Homo sapiens: one gene and its partners. The protein of the gene in region 4 purifies or fractionates together with the protein of the main gene of each other region. This does not show direct contact. Each region holds a gene or a part of one and is shown on either strand. Other genes may lie near its edges.

Region 1 (5,060 bases), on a different chromosome or scaffold from region 4:
TGGGAATAAATTATTTTACAGACCAACTCACACTTTGTCCACTAAAAAACTTACTTCAAGCCAGACACTGTGGCTCACACCTGTAATCCCAGCACTTTGGGAGGCCAAGGCAGGCAGATCACTTGAGCCCAGGAGTTAGAGACCGACCTGGGCAGCATGGCAAAACCCTGTATCTACAAAAAACAGAAAATTAGCTGGGTGTGGTGGTGTGTGCCTGTGGTCCCAGCTACTTGGGAGGCTGAGGCAGGAGGATTACCTGAGCCCAGGGAGGTCAAGGCTGTGATCGTGCCACTGCACTCCAGCCTGGGCAACAGAGTGAGACTCTTGTCTCAAAACAACAACAACAAAATTTACTTCAATGGTATCTAGTTTTTAAAACAGCTAATTAATATATTATTTTATAGCATCATGAGAGAAAGACAAATTGTTTCTATAGCAAGCATCTTCTAGCACGGAATAATTAAATTCAAGTTAAACTATCTGTAGTTACTGCTATTATTACTGTGGCACTGAGTTAAATACAAAACTCCTGCTATGTATCATGCACAGATAAGATTTCTTTTTTCTTCCTACTTCCTTCCTTCTACTATTTTTTTTCTTCAGTTTTATGCTGTTTTCTTTACTTCCGACTTAGAAAATCATGGCTTACCTTACTTACCCCTACTAGAAAATGAACAGTTTCTGGCACCTGACTTCAGACTCCCAGAATTACCAAGTATTTCTGCGGACTATGTAACAATAATAAACTGTTTCCAAGGCTCCAAGTACTGGCAACATCACTAAATAGGGCAACAAAAAGAAACTGTGGCTTGAAGTTTCACTAGATCTTTGTCATTTTAGATAGTAATTTTGTGAATTGCTAGATTTAGATCCCCAAGTAATGCAAGAAATCAAATAAAGCACCCCGCAAGTATTTTATCCATCACACAAAGCTCTTCCACTCTCTCCAATAAGGTAATAGTTTATGACTATGTGACTAACATCAAGAAGTAGATAAATTATGCCAATGAGCCAGACTTAGCAGATGATTAAAGAAATCTGTTAACAATTTACTTGTTTTTCTATTCTTCCACCAATCTCTTGATTTTAAGAACAACTTATTTTAAAGGCAAGTGGCTTATATAATCGTTCTTCATAAAGTCTCTTTTCCCAGTGCAGTAGCAACCTGGTTTCCATTTGAATGATTATCCAGGTAAGCTAACTAAATGTAAGAATTTATTTTTTATAAGAATTTCATTCATTTTAGCCTATTTAGGCATCCTACTCACTTATAGACGTAGGTGCAAACACAACTGGAACTATTCCATAAAATATTCATACATGTCACCACTGTGTAATTTCTTCCTACACCCTGAATGGAGGCTTCCTTTAAACTTTAAATGAAAATTATAATTGAGCTTGAGTCACAAAGAGTTTACCTCCCCAATAATGTTAATTATGTCACTAGATTTCATCCTCTTGCATCCCTACTCACTGAAATTCTTCAAGATTTCTTAATGTGAGGCAGGATAATTTAATTTTATAGGGAAATGCAATTGTGAACATGGAAAAGCATTATTTGGAGGTATACCCAAGATACTTCTACAAGAACAATAAGCTAAAATGCTAAATCATTTCCATTTACTCACTAACTAAACAACCTTTCATACCAGGAGCTCAGAGTCTGGAGGTGAAGGGGAAGGTGAAGACAGACAATAAACACATATGCAAATAAGCAAAGAAGATTAAGTGTAAGTCATGATCAGTGCTGAGAAGAAAATAAATTCAGAGCTGTGACACAGACTACAAACTGCAACAAACTGCAGAAACAAACTGCAACACAGATCATCTATAAACATACATAGCAGATTGACATCAAAGCCTTTCTAGGTTGCCTTTATGACTTCTTGACATATGCTTAGGTTCCGAGGATCAAAGCCCCTCAAACTTACCTGTTTCACTTTCTAGAACTAAAGCTAGTCTGTGACATCTCTAGCAGAAAATAAGGCACATCGACCATTTCACAGCACCTCTGCAATTAGGCTTTTGATTATGTGGTGTGATAACTTATCCACACTGAAACATTTTCAAAAGAGAAAACAGATTATTATTATTATTTTGTGTTTTTTTTTTTTTTGAGACAGAGTCTCGCTCTGTTGCCCAGGCTAGAGTACAGTGGTGTGATCTTGGCTCACTCTAACCTCCGCCTTTCAGGTTCAAGCAATTCTCCTGCCTCAGCCTCTCAAGTAGCTGGGATTACAGACATGCACCAGCACGCCCAGATAATTTTTGTATTTTTAGTAGAGACGGGGTTTCGCCATGTTGGCCAGACTGGTCTCGAGCTTCTGACTTCAGGTGATTCGCCTGCCTCAGCTTCCTGAAGTGCTGGGATTACAGGCTATCATTGTTATTTTTTAAGACAAGGTCTTGTTCTATGTTTCAGGCTGGAGTGCAGTGGCATGATCACAGCTCCTCTTGGGCTCAAGCAATCCCCCTGCCTCAGCCTCCCAAGTGGCTGGGACGACAGACATGCATGCCACCATGCTTGGCTAATGCACTTTTTAAAATTTTTTGTAGAAATGGAGTCTCCCTGTATTGCCGAGGCTGGTTTTGAACTCCTGGGCTCAAGCAATACCCCGGCCTTGACCTTTTGGAAATGTTGGGATTACAGGCCTGAGTCACCCTGCCCAGCCGGGATGTTTTTAATAATTATGCCAGAGCAGGCACAAACAAGGACTTTCCACCAGGGCAAACTAGGCCATATGGTTACCCTAATTATATACCACATCAAATGTAAATAGCCAAAAATTTCAAGAGTAGTTTATAGTTCCAGATATATTTAAATTATAATATCCAAGCCCTAAATTATAATATGGACAATATAAACCAAGTGAATCCCTTACTAAATATAAAGCTCTGAATATCTCACATTGTACACAAAATCAATTTCAGATGCATTATAAACGTCAATGTGAAAAAGCAAAGCACAAAAAGGTTTAAAGATAATCAAAGTATCTCTATGATGTTTTAAAAAAAGAAACACTAGCCATAAAAAACTGATGAACATGTTTACATTAAAATGAAGAACTTCTGTTAATTTAAAGAAACTACTAAATGGAAAAAATGTTTGCAATATATACATCCAACAATGGAGATATATTCAGAATACAGAACTCTAGAAAAAGACGTGTTTCGATTTAAAAAAGGAAAAGATTTCAAAGGCATTTTATGAAAAATGAAATCCAAACACCCAGATATGAAAAGCTGGTCAGCCCCATTTAGTAATGAGGGAAATGATTAAAACTAAATACAACTACATACCCACCAGGATTGGCTAGAATTGAAATATATGATACCACGTACGGTTGTTGGTAAGGGATATGAAACAAGAACTCTTACATACTAATAAATGAAGTAAAAACCACTAAACAACTACTTTGAAAAACTACCTGGCATTACCTGATAAAGACCAACATTCCCCATGTTCTTGCAATTCAAATTCTAAGTATATAATCTCAAGAAAACGAAATAAACATGCACCAGTGCACTTAAACAGAAATGTTCATAAAAGCATTGTTTATAATAGCCCCAAACTGCAAACAATCTAAATGCAATATCCAAAACAATGGCAGAAGGAATAAACTTGTGTTATATTCATGATGGAATATTATGAAACAATAAAAGCTAAAAATAAAATATATACAACACAATCCTATTTACATAAAGTTAAAAATGGGCAAAATTAAACTCTATTATTTAGAGATGTAAACTTATATGGTAAAACTATAAATGTCAGAAGAACATTTATATCTAGCTTAAATTAAGATGGTGATAGTTGTGATGGGAAAATATAGGTGGTGGGAGGCTTCTGGGATGCTGGCAATGTCTGTCTTGCCCTGGGTGGTGGTTACAAAGATGTTTGTTTAAAAATATTTCATTTTTATCTTATGTATCTTTTCAGCCTGTGTAGTTAGGTTTCCCAATAACACTCTCCCTGAGAAATTAAAAAAAAAAAAGTTCAAAAGAGAATGCTAAGACTGTTACTCAAAGAGATTAACTCTTAATCCATAGTTTAAAAACAGTAACAGGGATCTCTACATCCAAATACACACTGTATTATAAATTCCATGAATAAACTTTTGGCTTCAGGCCGGGTGCAGTGCCTCACACCTGTAATCCCAGCACTTTGGGAGGCCAAGGTGGGTGGATCATCTGAGGTCAGGAGTTTGAGACCAGCCTGGCCAACATGGTGAAACCCCGTCTCTACTCAAAATACAAAAATTAGCCAGCTGTGTTGGGCGCCTGTAGTCCCAGCTACTCGGAAGGCTGTGGCAGAACTGCTTGAACCCGGGAGGTGGAGGCTGCAGCGAGCCAAGATCGCACCACTGCACTCCAGCCTGGGCAAGAGCAAGACTCTGTCTCAAAACAACAACAAAAAAAAACGAAAACAAAACAAAACAAACACTTTTGGCTTTAATCTTTTAGACTACCATTCTTCGTTCAAATTTTGAAATGGAAGGTGAAATTTTCTGATATCGAATTACTCAACAAGTCATGTAAATTTTAAAATTTTAAGATTGAACTCCTTGCTTCTAATCTTGAAATCTGAAATGTGTCCAGTATTGACTAGACAGTTATAATGTAGTTTTCGATTAGATAATATCATGTAGACTAATATATAAAGGTTTGATAATGTCAGTTTTTGCGAACATAATCAAATTCCCCAAACTGGTTACACATTTAACTCATGTTGCTTAAGAAAAAGCAGCCGGGTGCGGTGGCTCATGCCTGTAATCCCGGCATTCTGGGAGGCTGAGGCAGGTGGATCACTTGAGGTCAGGAGTTCAAGACCAGCCTGGCCAATATGGTGAAAGCCTGTCTCAACTAAAAAATACAAAAATTAGCCAAGCGTGGTGGCACGCGCCAGTAATCCCAGCTACTCAGGAGGCTGAGGCAGGAGAATTGCTTGAACTTGGAAGGCAGAGGTTACAGGGAGCCAGGATTGTGCCACTGCACTCCGGCCTGGGCAACAGAGTGAGACGCCATCTCAAAAAGAAAAAAAAAAAAGAAAAAGAAAAAGC
Region 2 (5,060 bases), on a different chromosome or scaffold from region 4:
TGCCCAGCCAATTTTTATTTTTTATTTTAGAGATGGTGGGGGCGGGGGGGTGGTCTCACTATGTTGCTCAGGCTGGTCTCGAACTTCTGGTTTCAGGTGATCCTCTCACCTTGGCCTCCCAAAGTGCTGGGATTAGAAGTGTGAGCCACTGTGCCTGGCCAGTACTTTCTTAAAATGCTTCGGTCCCTTGGTTTACTTAATACTCTTAGTTCCATGATTCAACTTCTCACCTTTAAAATACAGGCATTGCTTCAGACCTCCTTAATTCTTTTTGTGCTTTGCTGTTTTCTTCTCTCTCTTTTTTTTTTTTGACACAGAGTCTCGCCCTGTCGCCCACGCTGAAGTGCAGTGGCGCGATCTTGGCTCACTGCAAGCTCCGCCTCCTGGGTTCACGCCATTCTCCTGCCACGGCCTCTAAAGTAGCTGGGATTACAGGAGCCTGCTACCACGCCCGGCTAATTTTTTTTTTTTTTTTGTATTTTTAGTAGAAATGTGGTTTCACCGTGTTAGCCAGGATGGTCTCGATCTCCTGACCTCCTGATCCGCCCGCCTTGGCCTCCCAAAGTGCTGGGATTACAGGTGTGAGCCACCGTGCCCGGCCTGTGCTTTGCTGTTTTCTATTCATCCTCAAGGACAAGCAGTCCCAACCTCTTAGCAATTCTGGCATAAAACTCCCAATGGTCGGCCGGGCGTGGTGGCTCACATCTGTAATCCCAGCACTTTGGGAGGCCAAGGCGGGCGGATCACGAAGTCGGGAGATTGAGACCATCCTGGCTATCACGGTGAAAACCCAGTCTCTACTAAAAATACAAAAACTTAGCCGGGCGTGGTGGCGGGCGCCTGTAGTCCCAGCTACTCAGGAGGCTGAGGCAGGAGAATGGCGTGAACCCAGAAGGAGGAGCTTGCAGTGAGCCCAGATCGCGCCACTGCACTTCAGCCTGGGCGACAGAGCAAGGCTCCGTCTCAAAAACAAAACAAAACAAAACTCCCAATGGTCTACTGCTCACTTCTTTAGCTGGAAACAACGTCTTCCCTCCCTGTGTTCAAACAACTCTCAGATCCTGTGCTGTATTATTGGACATTTTTCTCCATTCCTACTAATACCACCTTAACTTAAACTCTAAGGATCTAGGAATCTAGAATACTTAGTATATGGATACTAGATACTAAGAATCTAGTAATGAGGATAATAATAGTTTATAAACAGGAGAAATATATGTGTCTTATCAAGTACTATGCCTGGTACACAGCAACTGCTATATAAGTGGTAGCTATTACTATTATTTTATATATATATATATATATATATATTTTTTTTTTTTTAGACAGAGTCTTGCTCTCTTGCCCAGGCTGGAGTGCAATGGCGCAATCTCGGCTCACTGCAACCTCTGCCTCCAGGGTTCAAGCAATTCTCCTGCCTCAGCCTCCCCGGCACCTTGGATTACAGGTGCACACTGCCACATCCGGCTAATTTTTGTATTTTTAGTAGAGACGGGATTTCACCATGTTGGCTAGGCTGGTCTTGAACTTCTGATCTCCGGTGATATGCCTGCCTCGGCCTCCCAAACAAAGTGCTAGGATTACAGGCATGAGCCACTGCACCCAGACTACCATTATAATCTTTTAACTGGTCTTCTTAGCTCTAGGTTTTTGTTAACTATAATCCATCCGAAACACTGTCTCATCAGATCCCTGTTCTAGCTCTTCACTGTCTCCCACATAAAGCTGTAACCTCTAAACCTAAAATCAAGGGCCCTTTCTTGCTTATGACTGAATACAGAACTGCCATGTCACCCAATTCCAGGGAACACCATTCACTGCCACACCCAGAAGCTCCCTATCTATGCTTTGTGATACTTCATTAAGCTATATACTTTTCATGTTTCTGTACTGTGTTATGCTTTAAGTTTTTAAAATCTCCTGTATGTTACACATATTGGTGTTGAGTTTTGAGTATCTTTCCAGACTTTCAAATAAACATACAATTTTTAAAATAGTACCTTCTACATACTGCAGAATGTTCTATTTTACCTAACACACAGAAAAGTAAAAATGTAGGTAAACAACCCAAAAGTAGGCCAGGCGCAGTGGCTCACGCCTGTAATCCCAGACTTTGGGAGGCCAAGGCAGGTGGATCACCTGAGGTCAGGAGTTTGATACCCCGTCTCTACTAAAAATACAAAAATTAGCTGGGCATGGTGGCAGGCGCCTGTAATTGGAAGGCGCTTACAGCTACTCCGGAGGCTGAGGCAGGAGAATTGCTTGAATCCACGAGGCAGAGGTTGCAGTGAGCAGAGATTGCGCCACTGCATTCTAGCCTGGGCGACAAAAGCAAAACACAGTCTCAAAAGAAAAAAAAAACCCAAAAGTAATGTACGATCATCATCAATTTAAAAAAAACACCCTACTATCCATCCTTAAGTGACTCTTCAACATGAGAAACAACCCTAAATTTACAGAAACCAAAGAACCTCAGACCTTAGAAAACAAAGAAAGTACAGAAATAGACAATGGCTACTCTGATTCTGGAAGAAAAAGAAACTACAGAAAAGATATCCATAGTCATAAAGTTGGTAGGATGAAAATAGAAGTTTTAAAAAAACAACAAAAAACAAACTTAGACCACCACCACCACAATATTCAGGGAACCCATACAAGTCAGGAAAAAACAAAAACACAAATCTATAAGCCCAGCTGAATGAGAACATATTCAAAATATAAAAATACAATGTAGTTAATAAATAGGTGACTAAAAGTAACTTCAGAACTTGAAGATAAGATCAGCCTGATCAGAGGTAATGAGAAGTTTTGAAAAAAAAAAAAAAAAAAAAAAAAAAGGTCAGCCTGAGATTAGACTAGGAAAAATTCAAGTTAATGAATTAAATGAATAAATGTAACCACCCATAAAAGCAGCCTAGCCTAAGAAATGCTCTGTCAATAAATATGTGGCTGAGGAAACTAAGAAATATCCAAATATAATCAGGGTGATCAGGGAGTGAAGTCTCTGAAATGCATGATTGATGTAAAACAGCAAGGTGTAATCCAACCAAATGTATTGAATGTAAAGCCCCCAAATCAGAAAATATTCCAATTACAGAGGCATGTTTCATTTTTGGTACTGATGGGCTTGTCAGTATGAATACATTACCCCTAAAGACCACCGATTTATTTTAATCCAATCCCATGCTCATTATGTAACACTGTGATTATAATTTGGTCTACACAGACACCTTGATGTATAAAAGGGAGGAGAACTTTGTCTCAAAAAGGTATAATGCCTGCTGGGAACTGTGGTGGGGGTTGAGGGGGATCCTTTCTACCCTACAACATCCAGCAGAGTGCATTCTAATTGCTCAACCACCATATACCACAAATACGGGATTTATGGCAAATAGTCTCTGTATATTGCTGTTAGGTCTCCTCTGCTAGACTTGTATCTCTTTAGAGTAAGAACAATCAACAACAAATATTTAATATACACTTACTTCCTGCTAGGTTCTGTTCTAAGTGCTGGGATAACATTGCCAAAAAAAAAGTCAAAATCCAAGTCCCCGTGCAGTTACATTCTGATTGGGGAAGAGAGAAAAATACTTAAAAATAGAAAAGTACAGAAAATGTTGGAAGGTGACAAGTGCTAGGAGAGGCATGTCAGGAGAGTGGTTTGTAATTTTAAATATGGTGCTTATGGTAAACATCATTGCAAAGGTGAAATTTTAGCAAAGACTTGAGGTAGACAGACTCCTAAATTTGAATCATAGTCACACAGCTTACTATAAGGTGAATTTGGGCAATTTATTTAAGTCTCTGTGCATCAGTTTTCTCATAAAAAAAAAATCTTACCTACCTCATAAGGTTGTAAGGACTGAGTTATTTATTTGTACAATTTCTGGACCACACTAAAGTACTATAATTCCTGAGGTTTTGTTTTTTAGTTTAAAATAATGTAAAAAAAAAAAAAAGTTAAAAGAATGGGTCATGCAGATATCAAGGGGAAGAGTATTTCCAGCAGAGGTATACCAAATGGAAAGGCCCTGGTATTAAAGAAGCAGCTATGCCAGTGTGGCTGGAATAGAGTGCGTTTTGTAAAGGGGTAGAAAAAGATGTCATTATAAAGGATGCAGGGATGCTTAGGGCTGCTTCCAAACTTACAGACTTTTACTTAGATAGGGAGTCTCAAGAGGGTTTTAAGTGATCAACTGTTTTGACTTTTTAAAAGATTCACTGCATTTGCTGGGCGCGGTGGCTCACGCCTCTAATCCCAGCACTTTGGGAGGCCGAGGAGGGCGGATCATGAAGTCAGGAGATCGAGACCACCCTGGCCAACACGGTGAAACCTTGTCTCTACTGAAAATACAAAAAATTAGCCAGGCGTGTTGGCGGGTGCCTGTAGTCCCAGCTACTCCGGGAGGCTGAAGCAGGAGAATGGCGTGAACCCGGGAGGTGGAGCTTGCAGTGAGCCGAGATTGGGCCACTGCACTCCAGCCTGGGTGACAGAGCGAAACTCCATCTCAAAAAAAAAAAAAAAAAGATTCACTGCATTAAGAACTGACTATTGGTGGGGCGTGGTGGTTCACACCTTTAATCCCAGCAATTTGGGAAGCTGAAACTGAAGGATTGCTTGAGTCCAGGAGTTCGAGACCAGCCTGAGCAACATAGTGAGACTCCATTGCTACAAAAAACTTAAAAATGAGCTGGGTGTGGTGGCGAGCCCCTGTAGTTCCAGCTACTTAGAAGGCTGAGGTGGAGAATCACTTGATCCTGGGAGGTTGAGGCTGCAGTGAGCCACGTTGGTGCCACTGCACTCTAACCTGGGTGACAGAGCAAGACTCTGTCTCAAAAATAAATAAATGCATAAATAAAGAGAACTGACTGTTGAGGGAAGGTGGGGCATAATATATATATCAAACAGTGGAAAACGGGAAGGAGGCCAATCAAGAATCTATTATAATCCAGGAAAGATGGTCAGGCGCGGTGGTTCATGCCTGTAATCCCAGCACTTCGGGAGGCTGAGGTGGGCCGATCACCTGAGACCGGGAGTTTGAGATCAGACTGGCCAAAAC
Region 3 (5,060 bases), on a different chromosome or scaffold from region 4:
GAATCGCTTGAGCCCTGGAGGTGGAGATTGCAGTGAGCAAAGATCGTGCCACTGCACTCCAGCCTGGGTGACACAGTAAGACCCTGTCTCAAAAAAAAACAACCCCCCAACTTTTGGTACTTGGTATCCCTCTAAAGAGCATTGGTAGGAAATACAAATGCCTAAACCAAAGGAGTAAGGCACTGGTGACAGAATTTCAGGCATTGATGGGTGAACTCTTTTTTGGGGGTGGTGGTTGTCTTGGGGGTGTCTACTGTCTCTCAAGTAACATTAATTAGACAGTTACTGGTTTTACCTACAGTTAACATGTCCCACTCCATAGCTCCTTAAGATCCCACTCCATAGCTCCTTAAGACTTCTGACAACCTTACTACACAGCTAGTCCCAATGAGGGAGCTATTTACAGACTTGTAGGTTGGTTTTACTTTAAGCAAACTTTATACATAAAAACTTTTGTCTCTTTTTTTTTGTTTTTTTTGTTTTTTTCCCTGAGACAGAGTCTCACTCTGTTGCCCAGGCTGGAGTACAGTGGCACAATCTTGGCTCACTGCAACCTCCGCCTCCTTGGTTCAAGCAATTCTCCTGCCTCAGCTTCCTGAGTACCTGAGATTACAGGCGCGCACCACCACGCCCGGCTAATTTTTTTAATTTTTAGTAGAGATGGGGTTTCACCATATTGGTCAGGCTGGTCTCGAACTCCTGACCTCAAATGATCCACCCGCCTCGGCCTCCCAAAGTGCCGGGATTACAGGCATGAGCCACTACACCCAGCCAAAAACCTTTTCCTATTAGAAGGATTTAGCATTGATTCTTTCAAAATGATTTGTCACGTCATCCCTTCAAACAGCCCATCCCTTTAATGCACATCATTTTTTGTGCATTAAAAATTAAGACTATTGAGTTCCTGCTGGCAAGGATTTTTTAAAAATTGAGTGATTCCTAAAATTGTGATTTGATACAACTCTTCTAGAAAACATAGCTTGTTTGAAGTTTTGTTTCAATCTGTTAGAGAGTGATTTGGTGAAAGAAAGGTAGGGCTATCTGTAGGATAATGGGGTATTGCTTTAGTTTATTCCCCTAGGGACTGCTTTAGTGGCCTTACATTCTAGATATTTTTCCAGCAAGTGTGAGTGAGTCATGGAGTCTTGACCAAAGCTTGATCATTGCTTATTGGCAATTAATAAGATCAGGGTCTGGATCTACCAAAAAACCCACAGAATCTACTAATTCTGTTTTCTTAACTTGTGTCCTACTCTCCTCTATACCTCTTCTCCCATTTGAGAGCCTCTGCTCTTAAATTCTCTGCTATACTACCTCCCTTTTAATGTCCCTCAGCTAGAATTCAGTATGAAAAGGAAGGGATAGGAAAAAGAAGAAAGAGTGCCCACCAATTACAAGTTTATACATACATATATGGTATATAATGTTACCAGGATTTTTTTTTTTTTTTTTTGAGATGGAGTTTCGCTCTTACTGCCCAGGGTGGAGTGCAATGGCACGATCTCAGCTCACCACAACCTCCGCCTCCCGGGTTCAAGCAATGCTCCTGCCTCAGCCTCCCAAGTAGCTGAGATTACAGGCACATACCACCACGCCCGGCTAATTTTTGTATTTTTAGTAGAGACGGGGTTTCACCATGTTGGTCAGGCAGTTCTCGAACTCCTGACCTCATGATCCACCTGCCTCGGCCTCCCAAAGTGCTGGGATTACAGGCCAGGATTTTTATATTAAGTATAAAGGTTCTGGATTTGAGCTTCTTCTTGTGCCTAGCCACGGAATAAACAGAAATACCCTGAATAGACTCCTTTTTCTCAGGATCCTTTCATTTTCAGGGTTCTTTTGCCCTTTGGGGCATGTAATAGCAATATATAGTAACAATAGCTAAAGGAAAAGACTTTTCTGTATTCCCCAATCCCTGATACTTTTTTCTTTTTTTTTTTAAATGTGTTAAACTAAGTCTCAATCCTCAAATAGTTGTACTTCCTATTTATTATGGAAAATAAGCCTCCACCTCCCTAAGTGCAGGGATTACAGGTGAGAGCCACTGCACCTGACCCTCTTTCTTTCTTCTCTCCTTTTTTGTTATCTGCTTCTTAAACATTCTTATTTTTCCTCTGGTTTCTCTTGCATGTTCTTAGCTAAGCACCATTACTCTATTGTTGAACCCGACAGTTTACTAGTTTGCCAGATGTACAACTAAGATTAGTGTGTAAGCATGGAGAGAGGGAGATATACCAGTGAACAGGTTGGTTACAATGTGATAAATTGTAGAAAATATTTTACTTTCATTTACCTCCTGAGAGAAACAAAGAAAAAAGGGTCAGCTGATATGATGGAAGGGCAGTGGATTAGATGTGTTCTCACTTCCATCTTGGCACACACTGGCAGTGTGAAGTTGGAGTAATACTTTCCTGTTCCTCAATTTTGCCATCAGTAAAATATCTTGTGTTATCTACTTCAGTGAATGGCATAACTCTGTCCACTCACCTGAAGCAAAATCCTTAGAGTATTAACTGGATTTTATCCCTTACCATATCAACTAAGATTTGTCAATTCCATCTTTGCAGGAACTCCCATCTTTTCTTCCTTTCCTTTTTAACTGTTACTGACCTAGTCCACATTCTCATCCTTACCTGGAATACTGTAGCAGCCACCTGTTTAAATATCCAACCTCTCCAGTCTATTTCTCCACTAGTGTTTTTTCTTTATGTTAGCTAGTTACCAGGGTTTTCCTTCTTTTTTTTTTATTGTGGTAAAATACATATAACATAAAATTTACTATTTTAACTGTCTTAAAATGTACACTTCAGTGGCATTTACTATACTCAATATTGTGCAACTATTTTCAAAAACATCTTTATCACTCCAGATGTAAACTCTGTACTATTCCCTATTCCCTCCTCCCTCTTCATTAGTGTTTTTATTTTGTTTGTTTTGTAGGTGTATTTTTTTTTTTTTAAGAGAGAGTCTCTCTGTGTTGTTCAGGCTGGAGTGCAGTAGTGCGCTCACAGCTTACTGCAGCCTCAGCCTCCTGGGCTCAAGTGATTCTCCCATCTCAGCCTCCCTAGTAGCTGGGATTACAGGCATATGTCATCATGCCTGGCTGATTTTTGTATTTTTAGTAGAGACAGGGTTTCACCATGTTGGCCAGGCTGGTCTCCAACTTCTGATCTCAGGTGATCTACCCCCTCGGCCTCCCAAAGTGCTGGGATTACAGGTGTGAGCCACCACGCCCAGCCAGTTTTATTTTTCATACTGCCCCAGTTAAATATCCCCACCTTCCCCGCCGCCGCTGAGACAGGGTCTCACTCTGTTGCCCAGGCTGGAGTTGCAGTAGCATGATCACAGCTCACTACAGCCTCAATCTCCCAGGCTCAAGGGATCTTCCCACCCCAGCCTCCCAAGTAGCTGGGACTATAGGCACATGTCACCATGCCTGGCTAATTTTTTTTTTTTTTGAGACAGAGTCTCTCTCTGTCATCAGGCTGGAGTGCAATGGCGTGATCTCTGCTCACTGCAACCTTCGCCTCCTGGGTTCAAGCGATTCTCCTGTCACAGCCTCCCGAGTAGCTGGGACTACAGGCACGCCACCACACCCAGCTAATTTTTGTATTATTAGTAGAGATGGGGTTTCACCATGTTGGCCAGGATGGTCTCGATCTCCTGACCTCGTGATCTGCCCACCTCGGCCTCCCAAAGTGCTGGGATTACAGCCGTGAGCCACGGCGCCCGGCTGCCTGGCTAATTTTTTTAATTTTTTGTAGAGACAGGGTCTCCCTGTGTTGTGCAGGCTGGTCTCAAACTCCTGGGCTCAAGCAGTTCTCCTGCTTTAGCCTTCCAGAGTGCTGGGATTACAGGTGTGAGCCATCATGCCAGCCTGTATTTCTAAATAAGTATTATGTATGATTATATTACTTCTTCACCAGAAAATGTTCAGTTGCTCCCATTTTCTGCAGTATGATTGTTGAGCATAGCACTCAGGATCATCTATGATTATGTTGGAGACTATGTTTTCAGCTACATCTTACCCCTCTTTTCACATATATGCTAACACTGGTGGTTATTGAGCATTTGTAATGTTTTTGATCTTTCTATCTAGAATACCTTTTTCTTCCCATCCATTATGAGCCTCATGAGGGTAGAGAGCTTGTTTCACTCATATTTGAATATTTCGTTGACTAACTCAGTAAGTGTTCATAAAATTGATTATTTTTGGACAGTAAACTTTTACTATGAAGAGCCAGAGAGTAAATATGTAAGGCTTTGTGGGCCATATGGTTGCAGCTACACAACTAGGTGGTTGTATAAAAGCAGCCAGAGATAGTGTGTAAATGGATGAGAGAAGTCATGTTCCAATAAAACTTTATTTCTGGACCATGAAATTTGAATTTCAGATCATTTTCTTTTCTTTTTTAAGACGGAGTTTCGCTCTGTCACCCAGGCTGGAGTGCAGTGGCGCGATCTCGGCTCACTGCAACCTCTGCCTCCCAGGTTCAAGCAATTCTCCTGCCTCAGCCTCCCAAACTAGCTGACTAGCTGGGATTACAGGCGCCTGCCACCACGCCTGGCTAATTTTTTTTTTTTTTTTTTGAATAGAGACAGAGTTTCACCATGTTGGCCAGGCTGGTCTCAAACTCCTGACCTCAGGTAATCCACTTGCCATGGCCTCCCAAAATGTTGGGATTACAGGTGTGAGCCACTGCGCCCAGGCTTTTTTTTTTTTTTTTTTTTTTTGAGACAGGGTCTCACTCTGTCGCCCAGACTAGAGTGCAGTGGCAATCTCAGCTCACCACAACCTTGTCTCCTAAGCTCAAGCAATTCTCCTGCCTCAGCCTCCCGAGTAGCTGGGATTACAGGTGTGCACCACTCCTGCCTGGCTAATTTTTGTATTTTTAGTAGAGACGGGGTTTCACCATGTTGTCCAGGCTGGTCTTGAACTCCTGACCTCAAATGATCTACCCACCTCGGCCTCCAAAGTTCGGGATTACGGGCATGAGCCACTGTGCCCAGCCTGTTATAAAATATTGTCTTTGATTTTCTTTTTCCCAACAATTTGAAAA
Region 4 (5,577 bases):
GGTCTAGAGGATGCAGACAAAAGCTAAAACCCAAATTTACAATAACTGTCCTTCTATAATGTCTTTAATATAGTTAACCTTGTTCTAACTATTCATAATTGAGGCTGGGTAACAAACATGCAGGTTAATTACATTGTTCTACTTGTCTTGATATTTCCATAATAAAAAGGTGAAAACAAAAAATCCTATTCCTGAAATATCAGTTTTCTCAAAGTTCAGGACATGTGCCAAACACCTACACGGTGTTGGGACCCCAAGTATACACTTGTCCCACTTGAGATATAAAATGTATGTTTCCATGCCATATGGAGTCAAAACACCGAAGTCCTTTTCTGGGCCAAGGACTCAGTTCCTTGTGTTCTAGTGGATAATGGGACCTCAGGTCACACTAATCCCCTGGATTCAATGAAACTTATTTTGGAGAACCAGATCAAAAGGCTGTGCTTACTGCTACGAAAGATCTCTTAAATCCAACTTCCTGCATTTCCTAGTCTATCAAAATTTCCATCTTATCAGACCCACCTGGCAGACTTGCTGTGTATAGCTGGTCCCTTTAATAAAGAGTCAGAGGTAAGGTCAGTGATCCAGAGAGCATGGGGAACGATGGCCCCCAGCATTCTTAGCGAAGCCCCAATTCCCATCTCTGGAACAGGTGTATATCACCCACTATTACCAAGGCTGAATTTCCTCTTAATCCTTACTATGTGCTAGGCACTTTGACCCATATTAACTCATTATATTTGCAAGCAAGCCTATTAAGGAGGTGCTCTCATGATTCACATTTAAAAGTTGAAGAAAACAAGTGGCTAAGGTCTGGCTCCCAGGTCCCAGACACAGAGTTCTATACAACGACGTACAGCAGTGCTAGTCAAAGATGAAAGTTCCTGAACTTACACTTGCCCTGTTTCTTGTTCTCCTCTATCTCAATCCTGCGCTCTCGGCGGCGTTCCTCCCGAGCCTTCTTTTGGCGCTGACGTTTCCTCTTCTCAATGTCATCTGCAGATTGGTCAGGTTGTAAAGAGGTAGACCCAGGACAACATGGTCATTACCTCCTCCCAGTATTAGCAGCTAAACCCACAACAGTAGGCCCAGCTGGACTAGATGAACAGATGAAGTGTTTAGGAGGTACTAAGACTCATGATACAGTTCCATAAGTTTCCTCCCCCACTGGGTGTCTAGCCACAAGAATCCCTGAACCCTACTATAAAGAGAAGCAGAGCAGGGGCATTCTCACCTGAGAACATCTCTAGGGTTTCCTTAGAGACCACAGGAGGTTGCAAAGCCAGTTCACAGATGCTGAACTCACAGGTGAGTGGCAAGTGAGAGAGATATCTGTGACGCTGTCGAACATCCTACATTGGAAAAAGGACCAATACTCAACAAAAGCAAGCCTAACTCTGAAAGCAGGGGGTCCTAACCCCGATATCCAACAATATATACATAACACAGCCAGCACTGGGGCTGGAAACAGTAGTGCTCAATTATCCTCATTTTGAAAAGCCAAAGAGAAACTGTCAACCTACAGCAAGGTGGAATAAGCAACCAAATCCAGTTATTTTTGGTTTGTACTGCAAAGGAGTGAACTGAGTCCAGCAACAAATAATCTAAAGCCCATCAGCTGTTTCTGATTTTTTCAAGGCCCCACAGCTGAGGGGGACGAACAGAGAAGATAAAGTTATTTGTTGGCAGAAAAACAGAACAGAAAAAAACCTGGGAACCACTGACAGAATAAATAACTGGGAAGGAAGATAAAGCAGATCTCCCTATTGAAAGACACTTGGCCTGAAATAGTAGAAAATGAAGCCCAATTTTTTTTTTCTGAGACATGGTCTTGCTCTGCCGCCCAGGCCAGCTCACTGCAGACTTGATCTCCCCAGCTCAGGTGATCCTTCTGCCTCAGCCTCCTGAGGAGCTGGGACAACAGGTGCACATCATCATACCCAGCTAATTTTTTTTTGTATTTTTTGTAGAAATGCCCTGGCTGGTCTGAAACTCCTAGCCTCAAGCAATCTGCCTGAGTAGGCCTCCCAAAAGTGCTGGGATTACAGGTGTGAGCTACCACATCCAGCCCATTTATTTTCATTTCTATTCTTTTTCTGCATATGTTTGATGAAAAATTTATAGTACTCAAAGAGTCTAATTTTAAATCTTACAACAAATTTGTGACATTTCTCCCAAGCAATAAGGAGGATAAGAAACAAAAATAAACTCCATCTTAAATAAAAGAAATATCTATATCCCCAAACTACAATCAATGAACCAGAGAAGCAGGGAACAGCATTAACTGATTTAACAGAACCCTGGCATGCTGAGGGGACACTTCACTTACAAAGAATTCACAGCACCATCACTGACAGAAAGACTAAAAATACAAAAACTAAAGGCCTTGAAGGTTTGTGAACTTAGGATGGCTAGGCCTACCTCAAAGAGATTAGGTTAATACTGCTGCCTGACCCTCCATTTCTACAGGAAGGCCTCACCTCAGACATGGAGTAGCCAGCAATCTCCACCACAGTTGCTGAGATCTTCTCGGGGCTCCTCTCCAGGCTGCCGTACTCCCGCACGAGGCAGCGCACATTCACAGGGTGCAGGAACATATGCTGTCCATCTTCCGCTGAGGACAAGGGGCTCTATCACACACCAGTCTTGGCCAGTCCCCAGGAGGCTCCCCACCCCTCCCCATGCCCAAGGGCTCAAGCCACCCAAGCCACAGGATCTAGTGGCGCTCCTCTGCTTAGAGCACCGGGTCACCTCTGAAACACCTCTGCGGCAACCCAGCCCTCTCTTCCGGCACCCTCACCTTGGTAAAAGTAGTAACAAGGAGAGCTGCTGAGGCGTGTGAAGCCTGACTTGGTGATGGGTTCCTGCTGGCTGGACTCAGTGCAAATGGTCCCCTCTTTAAGATTGTCATCTGCTAACTCCAAGTCATCACAGGCCTCTGGCAACCCCTCAGGCTCTGGTTCAGACACTGCTTCCTCCTCTTCTACCAGAGGGAGAGCAAGAGGTCTAGAAGGAGTGTCCAGAGAACAAACTTCCGTGGTTTCTTCATCGAAGGCAGACAGATACTCCAGCACACCCTGTTGCAGCAAACTCTAAGTCAACAGAAAGGATATCTCCTGCTTTCCGAAAGCAATGTGGCAAATGCAGACCTAAGAGCCAAGCTCCCTAGATGTTTATCTTAGCTGTCGTGTTCACTGATTTAACACCCCTGGGGAAAGAACTAATAACAAGCATACAGAAAATACTCATTGTCCCCTCTTCTCTTGAGAAGGTTTAGATCTCACAGTAATGCCTACCAGCTCAATGACAGCATTTGAGGAACGGCAGCCACTTAGTAACAGGAACACACTAACCTTCCTGGGTTGAAAAACAGACTCCTTCGCCAAGGGAGCCATCAGCACCAGTTGTTCCAGAGCAGCCACAACACCAGTGACCTCCCTTCTGCTTCCGGCCAATCCCGACAGAGCCTCTTCCCGAGTCTAACGTGGCCAGAGAGAACACCAGAGAAGGTTAAGTTTCCAGACACACACTTAGCTTGAAGGGCAAGGGCTTAGAATGGCCTCTCAACAGGACCAAAAGTTAAAAGGCAATGAGACCCAATGGGAAGGAATTAGGTGCTTAAATATCTCAACTTTGAGGGAAACAGGAAGCAAAAAGCATGCAATACCCACTAAGGATTGGAATCTGCTTAGAATCTGACACTGGGGAGTGTAAATTAGTTCAATCATTGTGGAAGACAGTGTGGTGATTCCTCAAAGACCTAAAGACAGAAATAAAATTTCACCCAGCAATCCCATTACTGGGTATATAGCCAAAGGAATATAAATCATTCTACTGTAAAGACACATACGGCCAGGTGTGGTGGCTCATGCCTGTAATCCCAGCACTTTGGGAGACTGAGGTGGGCGGATCACCTGAGGTTGGAAGTTCAAGACCACCCTGACCAACATGGAGAAACCCCATCTCTACTAAAAATACAAAATAACCCAGGCATGGTGGGGCATGCCTGTAATTCCTGCTACTCAGGAGGCTGAGGCAGGAGAATCACTTGAACCTTGGAGGCAGAGGTTGTGATGAGCCGAGATCACGCCACTGCACTCCAGCCTGGGCAACGAGAGCAAAACTCTGTCTCAAAAAAAAAAAAAAAAAAAAGAAAGAAAGAAAAAGAAAAACCAAATATCGCACACATGTTCTCACTTCTAAGTGGGAGCTAAATGATGAAACATGGACACATAGAGGGGAACACACACTGAGGCCTATCAGAGGGTGGAGAGTGGGAGGAGGGAGGGGATCAGGAAAAATAACCAATGGGTACTAAGCTTAATACCTGGGTGAAAATCTGTATAACAAACCCCCATGACACAGGTTTACCATGTAACAACCTGCATTTGTACCCCTGAACTTAAAAGTTAAAAAAAATAAAAGAGAATCTGACACAAACAACACTATACAAAAAACTTCCAGAACAGAAATCTAAGAACATGAAACTAACCTAGTTTTTACAAACTATGCTCAGACAGAGGTCCAGAGTAGTAGGAAGGATTTAGCTAACTCCACCTCAGCCTGGACAGCTCTAATTCTATGTAGCCTTTCTTATGCCTGTAATGGCATTTGAACAAATACGGCTGCAACGTATTATAGAAAGAAAGCAAAAGTTAAATACACAGGACTCTACCCAAGGAGCCCTTGGGAGTCAGGGAGAAGGGAATTCAAATACCAGCTGCATCCCTTACTAGCAAATTACCCAACCCAGGATTCAGTTTCCTCATCCATGAAAGGGGATAGTTCTATCTACCACACTAGAAGCTTAAGTGAGATAAATGTGTATAGCACAAGTCCTATCAAATGCTGATCACTCAATAAATATGGGCTTCTATTGCTCTAAGCTAGATCAGTGGTTCCAGGAGTGTGGTCTGGGGATGAGCAGCCATCAGAATCACCCTAGAACTTGTTATATGCAAATTACTGAGCCTACTGAGCTTAACCTATGCAATCAATATCTCAAAGTGGGACCTAACAACCAGTGGTTGTGATGCTTCAAGAATCTCTGTTGTGGAAGATAAAAGACCCAGGGAATTCTGTTCTTGTGTAATTCTTGCCGTTTCAGGTACTCCTAAGGCATACTGGGCAGGCCATAATACTTTCTCCACAATGTCTTTCAAAACACCTCTAGAATAGAATCTTAAGTATTTTCCCAGAAAACAAAGAACTCTAACTTGCTTTAAGAACATAGCTAATCTAAAAAACTCCACTGTCACAATTAGTTATAAAATCATTTTGACTTGCTCCTTTCAGCTCTAGAAAGAGCTTTAAAAGCCCTAGGTTAAACCTTCTCTACTGTCATCAAACAAAGCCCAAAACAAATTGGCTTTTTTAGCCATTCTCTGCTTATTGTCTTAAATGTGGAATGGAACTAACTTAATCCCCAGCGTCCATCATCTCACCCCCGACAGAGTGAAAAGGTTTAGCATTTCTGGTTTTCACCACAGAACGCCGAGAAAGTGAAAAGGTTTAGCATCTCCAATGCATCCTCTCACCTTGAGCTCCTGGATAGCTGCCTCAATAAAGCAGGACTCG

Evidence for each region.
Region 1: the proteins of RNF10 (region 4) and LSM14A purify together in Homo sapiens (co-immunoprecipitation; one large-scale study listed by IntAct). This does not show direct contact.
Region 2: the proteins of RNF10 (region 4) and ATAD2 purify together in Homo sapiens (co-immunoprecipitation; one large-scale study listed by IntAct). This does not show direct contact.
Region 3: the proteins of RNF10 (region 4) and HAUS2 purify together in Homo sapiens (affinity purification with mass spectrometry; one large-scale study listed by BioGRID and IntAct). This does not show direct contact.

The regions. Positions count from the first base shown.
Region 1 is NC_000019.10:34,175,217-34,180,276, reverse strand, and holds part of LSM14A (protein LSM14 homolog A), read right to left. Parts: intron 1-5,060. UniProt on the Homo sapiens protein: Essential for formation of P-bodies, cytoplasmic structures that provide storage sites for translationally inactive mRNAs and protect them from degradation. Acts as a repressor of mRNA translation. May play a role in mitotic spindle assembly.
Region 2 is NC_000008.11:123,388,675-123,393,734, forward strand, and holds part of ATAD2 (ATPase family AAA domain-containing protein 2), read right to left. Parts: intron 1-5,060. UniProt on the Homo sapiens protein: May be a transcriptional coactivator of the nuclear receptor ESR1 required to induce the expression of a subset of estradiol target genes, such as CCND1, MYC and E2F1.
Region 3 is NC_000015.10:42,551,551-42,556,610, forward strand, and holds part of HAUS2 (HAUS augmin-like complex subunit 2), read left to right. Parts: intron 1-5,060.
Region 4 is NC_000012.12:120,560,847-120,566,423, reverse strand, and holds part of RNF10 (E3 ubiquitin-protein ligase RNF10), read right to left. Parts: coding exon 5,538-5,577; intron 3,480-5,537; coding exon 3,354-3,479; intron 3,093-3,353; coding exon of another isoform or gene 3,078-3,092; coding exon 2,801-3,077; intron 2,615-2,800; coding exon 2,481-2,614; intron 1,353-2,480; coding exon 1,235-1,352; intron 997-1,234; coding exon 895-996; intron 1-894. UniProt on the Homo sapiens protein: E3 ubiquitin-protein ligase that catalyzes monoubiquitination of 40S ribosomal proteins RPS2/us5 and RPS3/us3 in response to ribosome stalling.